Linked DNA regions of Homo sapiens. The protein of the gene in region 1 purifies or fractionates together with the protein of each later gene. This does not show direct contact. Each region holds a gene or a part of one and is shown on either strand. Other genes may lie near its edges.

Evidence for each region.
Region 2: the proteins of APBB1IP (region 1) and LUZP1 fractionate together in Homo sapiens (co-fractionation; one large-scale study listed by BioGRID). This does not show direct contact.

What each region holds. Positions count from the first base shown.
Region 1 is NC_000010.11:26,514,751-26,518,571, reverse strand, and holds part of APBB1IP (amyloid beta A4 precursor protein-binding family B member 1-interacting protein), read right to left. Parts: intron 1-3,821. UniProt on the Homo sapiens protein: Appears to function in the signal transduction from Ras activation to actin cytoskeletal remodeling. Suppresses insulin-induced promoter activities through AP1 and SRE. Mediates Rap1-induced adhesion.
Region 2 is NC_000001.11:23,162,167-23,165,987, reverse strand, and holds part of LUZP1 (leucine zipper protein 1), read left to right. Parts: intron 1-3,821.

The DNA.
Region 1 (3,821 bases):
ATCAAGGATCTGGAACAACAGGAATTCTCATACAATGTTAATGGGAGGCTAAGTCATAGAATCTGTGTGAAAGCTGCTTGGCAGTATCTACTATAACTAAACATATTACCAGCCTGGCCAACATGGTGAAACCCCGTCTCTACTAAAAATACCAAAACTAGCCAGGTGTGGTGGTGAGTGCCTGTAGTCCCAGCTACTCGGGAGGCTGAGGCACGAGAATCACTTGAGCCAGGGAGGTGGAGGTTGCAGTGAGCTGAGATTGTGTCACTGCATTCCAGCCTGGGTGACAGAAGGACTCTTTAAAAAAAAAAAAAAAATAGGCTGGGCGCGGTGGCTCATGCCTGTAATCCCAGAACTTTGGGAGGCTGAGGCAGGCAGATCACATGAGGTGGAGCTCAAGACCAGTCTGGCCAACATGGTGAAACCCTGCCTGTACTAAAAATACAAAAATTAGCCAGGCATGGTGGTGGTTGCCTGTGATCCCAGCTGTGCAGGAGGCTGAGACAGGAGAATCGTTTGAACCCAGGAGGCAGAAGTTGCAGTGAGCCTAGATTGCACCACTGTATTCCAGCCTGGGTGACAGAGCAAGACTCAATCCCAAAAATGAAATAAAATAAAAAATAAAACTAAGCATATGCACAACCTGTGGTCCAGCAATTGCACCTATAGGTATATATGCAAGAGAAATGTCTACACATGTCCAACAAAAGACATGTACTGTATAAGAATGCTCCCAACAGCATTACTTGTTAAAGCCCCACGCTAGAAACAAGTCAAATATCCATCAGCAAGACAATGGATAAATAGGTTTTGGTATAGTCACACAATGGAATTCTAACAGTGAAAAAGAATAAGCTAGTGCTATGGGCAATAGCATGAATGAGAGTTGAGCCAAAGCAAAGCTAAACAAAACCAACCCGGGCAACATGGTGAGAGCCTGTCTCTCAAAAAAACAAAAACAAAACTTGGCCGGGTGTGATGGCCTGTGCCTGTGTTTCCGGCTACTCTGGTGGCTGAGGCGGGAGGCTTACTTCAGCCTGCAAGGTGGAGGTTGCAGTGAGCCAAGATCGTGCCACTGCAAGATCTGGCTGGGCAACAGAGCGAGACCCTGTCTCAAAAAGAAAGAAGTACTGTGATATAATTCCATTTCATATATAAAGTTCAAAAAGAGGAAATGCTAAGGAGATAGAGGCTAGAATCATGACGACCTTTGTAATGGGTAGTAAGGACTGGGAAGGGCCAGGAGGAAGGCCGCTGCAACTCCCTGAATGCTCTGTTATCTTCATGTGGGTGGTAATTACATGGGTTGGTTCACTTTGTAAAAATTCAGAGTGTACCATTATGATATGTGCACTAGTTCATTAGTTACCATGGCAAACTGCAGATGCCCACTGAAGGACTGAAAGACATGCCATCCCCAAAAATGCTAGATTGGTGCACTGATTACTTCTAGTTGAAAACATTGGAGAAACTGCGGTTCCAGAAAGGGTGAGCTGACCTCCTCTTCCTGCAGGCAGCAAGCCATCAAGATTCCTCTGGGAGGGGAACCCTCAGCATTTCGGGGCGAGAAAATAGCCCTTATCACCAGAGACTGGGAACGGGGCTGCAAAGGAGCTGAATAAATATACTCAACAAAGGAACCCTTATCTTCCACTATAGGTAAAGTAACCCTTATCTCCCCCCATATATCTTCTGGTGATGCCCTCTAGTGAAAGGAAAATAAAAACGCGGGACCCCAGTTCACGCTGCCAAAAGGAATAAAGTAAGCTGAAAGCTGAGTCATGCAAGACGTTGCCTTCCCTTTTGTTCCTAAACAGACAGCTACAAATAAAAGGTTAAATATCTCCACAGGGAGCAACTCTATGTTCATCTTATCTTCTGTGAAGTTCCAACTTACTGAGTGCGAGAGGAATACAGCCATTCACTCTTCCCCTACCTGCTCCTTTTCTCTTGCAATGTGTGCGTTACCACACCCCTCCCTCTTTCCCCTCCTTGACTTTTCCGCTTTACTTTTTTTTTTTTTTTTTTGAGATGGAGTCTTGCTCTGTCACCCAGGTTGAAGTGCAGTGGTGCTATCTCGGCTTACTGCATCCTCTGCCTCCTGGGTCCAAGCAATTCTCCCTTCCTCAGCCTCCCAAGTAGCTGAGATTACAGGAGCCCACCACCATGCCTGGCTAAGTTTTAAATTTTTAGTAGAGATGGGGTTTCTCTATGTTGGTCAAACTCCTGACCTCAAGTGATCCGCCTGCCTCAGCCTCCCAAAGTGCTGGATTACAGGCGGGAGCCACCGTGCCTGGCATCCCCTTTAAATATTGAAGCCCTCAAATTCATCTTTGGAGAAGGGCACAGACCACAGACTGTTTCTGTGATTCTGTTTGTTTGTTTGTTTGTTTTCTTCTGGGCATGTCCTTAAGCCTTGGCAAAAGAAACTTCTAAGCTGATTGAGACCTGTCACAGAGACTTTCCGGTTTACACTCCCCTAGAAACTTTACTGCCCCTAGCCAGATTCCCTTTGTTCTGTCATTTTTTTTTCAAATTTATTATTTGTTTAAAAAGTATAGAAGCATCTTGCCTCGGCCACTTCTTTAGACTTGACTCTTGTGAAGATCCCCATGTAGATGTAAAACTGATAAAAATGTGCATACTTTCCTCTTGTTAATCTCCCTGGTGTCAACTTGGTTTCTAGATCCAGCCTAAAGGGATATGGAGGTAATCCCTAATCCAGCCTAAACAGGTATGGAGGTAATCTCTGATCCAGCCTAATGGGATATGGAGGTAATCTCTGATCCAGCCTAAAGGGGTATGGAGGTAATATCTGATCCAGCCTAAAGGGGTATGGAGGTAATCTCCGGCTCTCCCACCATGGCTAATCTTAGTTATACAATAGCTATTCCTTCTCTTAGTTATACAATAGCATAGCCATGTTGCATGACTCTTGGGCATTATTTTTATAGATTCAAGGGGAAAGGTGCCTCATGGAGGAGTTATGCAAAGTGGTGGCCCTGAATGTAACTCCCTAGTTTTAGCTGTGCATATGGTTGTTCAGATAGACACTACATTTGTCAGCTTTCCTTGTAGCTCAGTGTCATTATGTAACTAATTTCTGGCCAATGGGATGGAAGCATAAATCTGAATGTGCATTTCCCCGGCTCTTCCCTCACTTCATATGGACTGGAAAATGGTGAGGCGGAAAAGCTAACATGGAACCAAAGATGGAAACCACATATCGAAAATGGCAGAGCCATTCTACTAGGTCTAGCTACCTGTGGCTGGACCAGTGCGTGAGAGAGAAATAAGCTTGTAGCTTGTTTGAACCACTGATTTAAGAGTCTCTTTGCTACAGCAATTTAGATGGTACCCTCACTAACGCAGTTGTTAAAGCATGCCATTGGGCTGGGTGCAGTGGCTCACACCTGGAATCCCAGCACTTTGGGAGGCCAAGGCGGGCGGATCACGAGGTCAGGAGATCAAGATCACCCTGGCCAACACGGTGAAACCCCATCTCTACTAAAATACAAAAAAAAAAAAAAAAATTAGCCGGGGGTGGTGTCATGCGCCTGTAGTCCCAGCTACTTGGGAGGCTGAGGCAGGGGAATCACCTGAACCCGGGAGGCAGAGGTTTCAGTGAGCCGAGATTGCACCACTGCACTCCAGCCTGGCAACAGAAGAAGACTTTGTCTAACAAAAAAAAAAGAAAAGAAAAAGAAAAAAGCATGGCATTGAAGGTAGTTAGGGGCGAAAAACTTTGTACTTTTAATACTATTTAATTGTTGTGTTGTCAGTCAGCCACCATACAACCTAGGGAAAACCCAGAAAATAGC
Region 2 (3,821 bases), on another chromosome or scaffold:
AGGTGCTTACTTATTTCTTATGATGAAAGCATTTCTGTTAAAATGGGGAGTACCTAAGTGATCATATATTTCATTTATGTAATGGAAGTTGATGGATAGCTAATGGCCCTTCCAGTGTAAAGCGGCCATCATTAAGGTAACATTATCAGAAACAGAATCATTTTTCATGTAATACAGCTTTTAGGGACAGTGTCAACTTATGAGTAAAGCATGCTGTTACAGGTAGGACCCGGATAGTCCAGGCTGAAAGATGTGGTATAAACTTTGATGCATATAATAGATGCATAGCAAATATTTGATGAGTGAATGAATGAATGTAATGAATGTATTCCCTTTTTTTTTGGAGTGCAGTGCTGTGATGATGTCTCACTGCATCCTCTACTGCCTGGGCTCAAGTGATTTTCCCACGTCAGCCTTCTGAGAAGCTGGGACCACAGGTGTGTGCCACCATGCCTGGCTAACTTTTTTTTTTATTTATAGAGATGAGGTTTCCCTGTGTTTCCCAGGCTGGTCTCCTGGAACTCCTGGGTTCAGGGGATCCTCCCATGTCAGCCTCCCAAAGTGTTGAGATTACAGGCATGAGCCATCATGCCCTGCCCGGAATGCATTCTTTAAAAAAAAAAAAAAAGCTTTATTGAGGTATAATTTACATACAATAAAATTCACCAATTTTAAGTGTACAGTTTGACAAATTTTGACACATGTATACAGTTGTATAATTACCACCACTGTGTTTATTTTTTTAAACTGTGTGTTATCTTTTAGGAATTGGGTAGCAGATTTATCCCTGGGAATGTTATGAGGTTTCTATGCTCAGATTCAATACTGTGAGATCAGAATGAATATTAGAGTGTTAATGTGCCAACTTGGGAGGAAATAGGAAAACCTTCGGTATTTAATGGTGAGGTAAATAGGAAGAATAAGGAGAGACATTTATTGGATTAGGGGAAAGATAAATAAATTCAGGAGGAAGTAGATTTTAGTTACTTTTAAGACAGAGGATACATTTTGGGGAAAAAGTTACCAAAAGATTTAAGGAGTTGAACTTTTTATTTTTTTTCTTTTGAAATGGTAGCTCCTGAAATATAAAACTTAACATCTTTGGCTGTGCTTAAGAAGCGCTTAACAAATTATGGTTGTTCAAATAATACTTAAGGGTGGGGATGGTGTAAAGTGGTTGAAGGCCTTGCCCTTCCACCTATGACAGAATATCCTTAGTGTTGATCTCTAACTTGTTTTAAGTAATATTCCACAAAGGGAAGAATACATTAGGTAGCAATTGTGGCTTGCGGGGAAGATTGTTTCTTCCTTTTCATAATTTCTCAAGTCACTGAACTTCTCCCAGTATGCTTTAGCTCAAGTCTCTGTCTCTTAGAAAATGCCTGGAACCTGTGCTAGTGAGCTTCTAGAAGAAGCCCCATTTCTACCTTCTCTTTATTTTTTGATTTTATCTTTATTCATTCTGTTTCTGTATGGTGACTGTGTTTTTTTTTTTTGAGACGGTGTCTCACTGTGTCACCCAGGCTGAAGTGCAGTGGTGTGATCTTGGCTCACTGCAAGCTCCGCCTCCCGGGTTCACGCCATTCTGCCTCAGCCTCCCGAGTAGCTGGGACTACAGGCACCCGCCACCATGCCCGGCTAATTTTTTGTATTTTTAGTAGAGATGGCATTTCACCGCGTTAGCCAGGATGGTCTCGATCTCCTGACCTCGTGATCCGCCCGCTTCGGCCTCCCAAAGTGCTGGGATTAGAGGCGTGAGCCACCGCGCCCAGCCGGTGACTATTTTATAAGCCCTTCTCTCACCCATGGATTTGTCTGAGAATGGAAACTTTTTTTTTTTGCTCTGCCCGAAGCAAAGGAATTCTTGTTAAATCCACCATTGGTCCTCCGTATACCATTAGGAAATAATAATTAAAATAACCCTTTAGATCTACTCAAAGGGGTGACTATAATAGTGTTCCCTCCTTGAGCGGGGGACATGCTAATCTTCTCTGTATTATTCCAGTTTTAGTATTTGTGCTGCAGAAGTGACTACTCTGTTCACCTTTGAAAAAATAATAACTCTATGAGGTAGTCATTATCCTTATTTTATAAATGAGGGAACTGAGCTCAGAGCAGTTAACTGCCAGAGCAAGTGAGGGGCAGACCATTGATTCGAGCTCAGGTATGATTGATGCTCAGGTTTGGGGTCTATGTCATTACACTCTCAGTTGTATGGGAGTGGAGGGTCAAGGGAAGAGCTTGAAAATACCATATTAAAATATGAGCCACAACATGACAAGCATTGCTAACCTTTTTAGGCATTGCTGTTGTCATCTATGACTTTCTTAATTTCTGGAGATTCCTCCTTATGTTCTAAGGAATTGATAGTTAATCCTTTAGTATTGCACAACTTCCTTCCCAGACTCAGCATTTTTTTTTTTTTTTTTTTTAAGAGACGGGATCTCACTCTTTCTCTCGATCTGGAGTATAGTGGCAGTCATAGCTCACAGCAGCCTTGAACTCCTGGGCTTAGGCAGTTCTCCTTCCTCAGCCTCCGATTAGCTGGGACTACAAGTGTGCACCACCATGCCCAGCTAATTAAGAAACATTTTTTTTTTTTTTGTAGAGATAGGGTTTTGCTTTGTTGCCCAGGCTGGTCTTGAACTCCTGGGCTCAAGCGATTCTCCCACCTTGGCCTCCCAGAGTGTTGGGATTACAAGCATGAGTGGCACCTGGCCCCAACATGCTTTTTTTTTTTTTTTTTTTTTGAGAGAGTCTCACCCTGTCACCCAGGCTGGAGTGAAGTGGTGTGATCTCGGCTCATTGCAACTTCCACCTCCCGGGTTCAAACGATTCTTCTCCCTCAGCCTCCCAAGTAGCTGGGAGTACAGGTGCCTGCCACTACACCCAGCTAATTTTTGTATTTTTAGTAGAGACAGGGTTTTACCATGTTGGCCAGGCTGGTCTCGAGCTGCTGACCTCGTGATCCGCCTGCCTCGGCCTCCAAAAGTGCTGGGATTACAGGTGTGAGCCACCGCACCCAGCCTTATTCTTTATTAACATGGTACTTTGTATCACTGGCTGTTTGAATTACTCCTCTGAAAGCTTCTACCCGGGTAATCTTTCATTCAAGACCTGCCGTATTTGCATGTGCCCCTTTATACCGTTTGTTTCTTTATTTTTACAAAAAAATTTAAAAATATGGACTGCTTTATGAATTAGCATGTCATCCTTGTGCAGGGCACATACTAATCTTCCCTGTACCATTCCAATTTTAGTATTTGTGTTGTGGAAGTGAGCACTCTATTCCTGTTTTTATCTGGACAAAATAGTATTTTAAAAATGTATTATGGGCTGGGCTAACATGGTGAAACCCCGTGGCTACTAAAAATACAAAAAATTAGCCAGGCATGGTGGCAGGCACCTGTAGTCCCAGCTACTCGGGAGGCTGAGGCAGGAGAATGGCGAGAACCCAGGAGGCAGAGCTTGCAGTGAGCCGAGATCACGCCACTGCACTCCAGCCTGGGCAACAGAGCGAGACTCCGTCTCAAAAAAAAAAAAAATAAAAGTATATTACGTTATTAAAAACTTTATGATTGAAGTATATAATACATATACAGAAAAATGCATGTAAAAGTGGAATTTGATGTTTTTTTCCCACAAACTGAATATACCCATGTAAGCAGCACCTAGATCTAGATCAAGAAACAGCGTTACCAGTACCTAGAAGCCCCTATCCAGTTCCCTTTCAGTTCCTGTCTCCCCTCTACCACCCAGGGTAATCACCATCCTGACTTCTGACAGCATAGATTATTTTGCTCTTTTTTTGTACTTTTGTA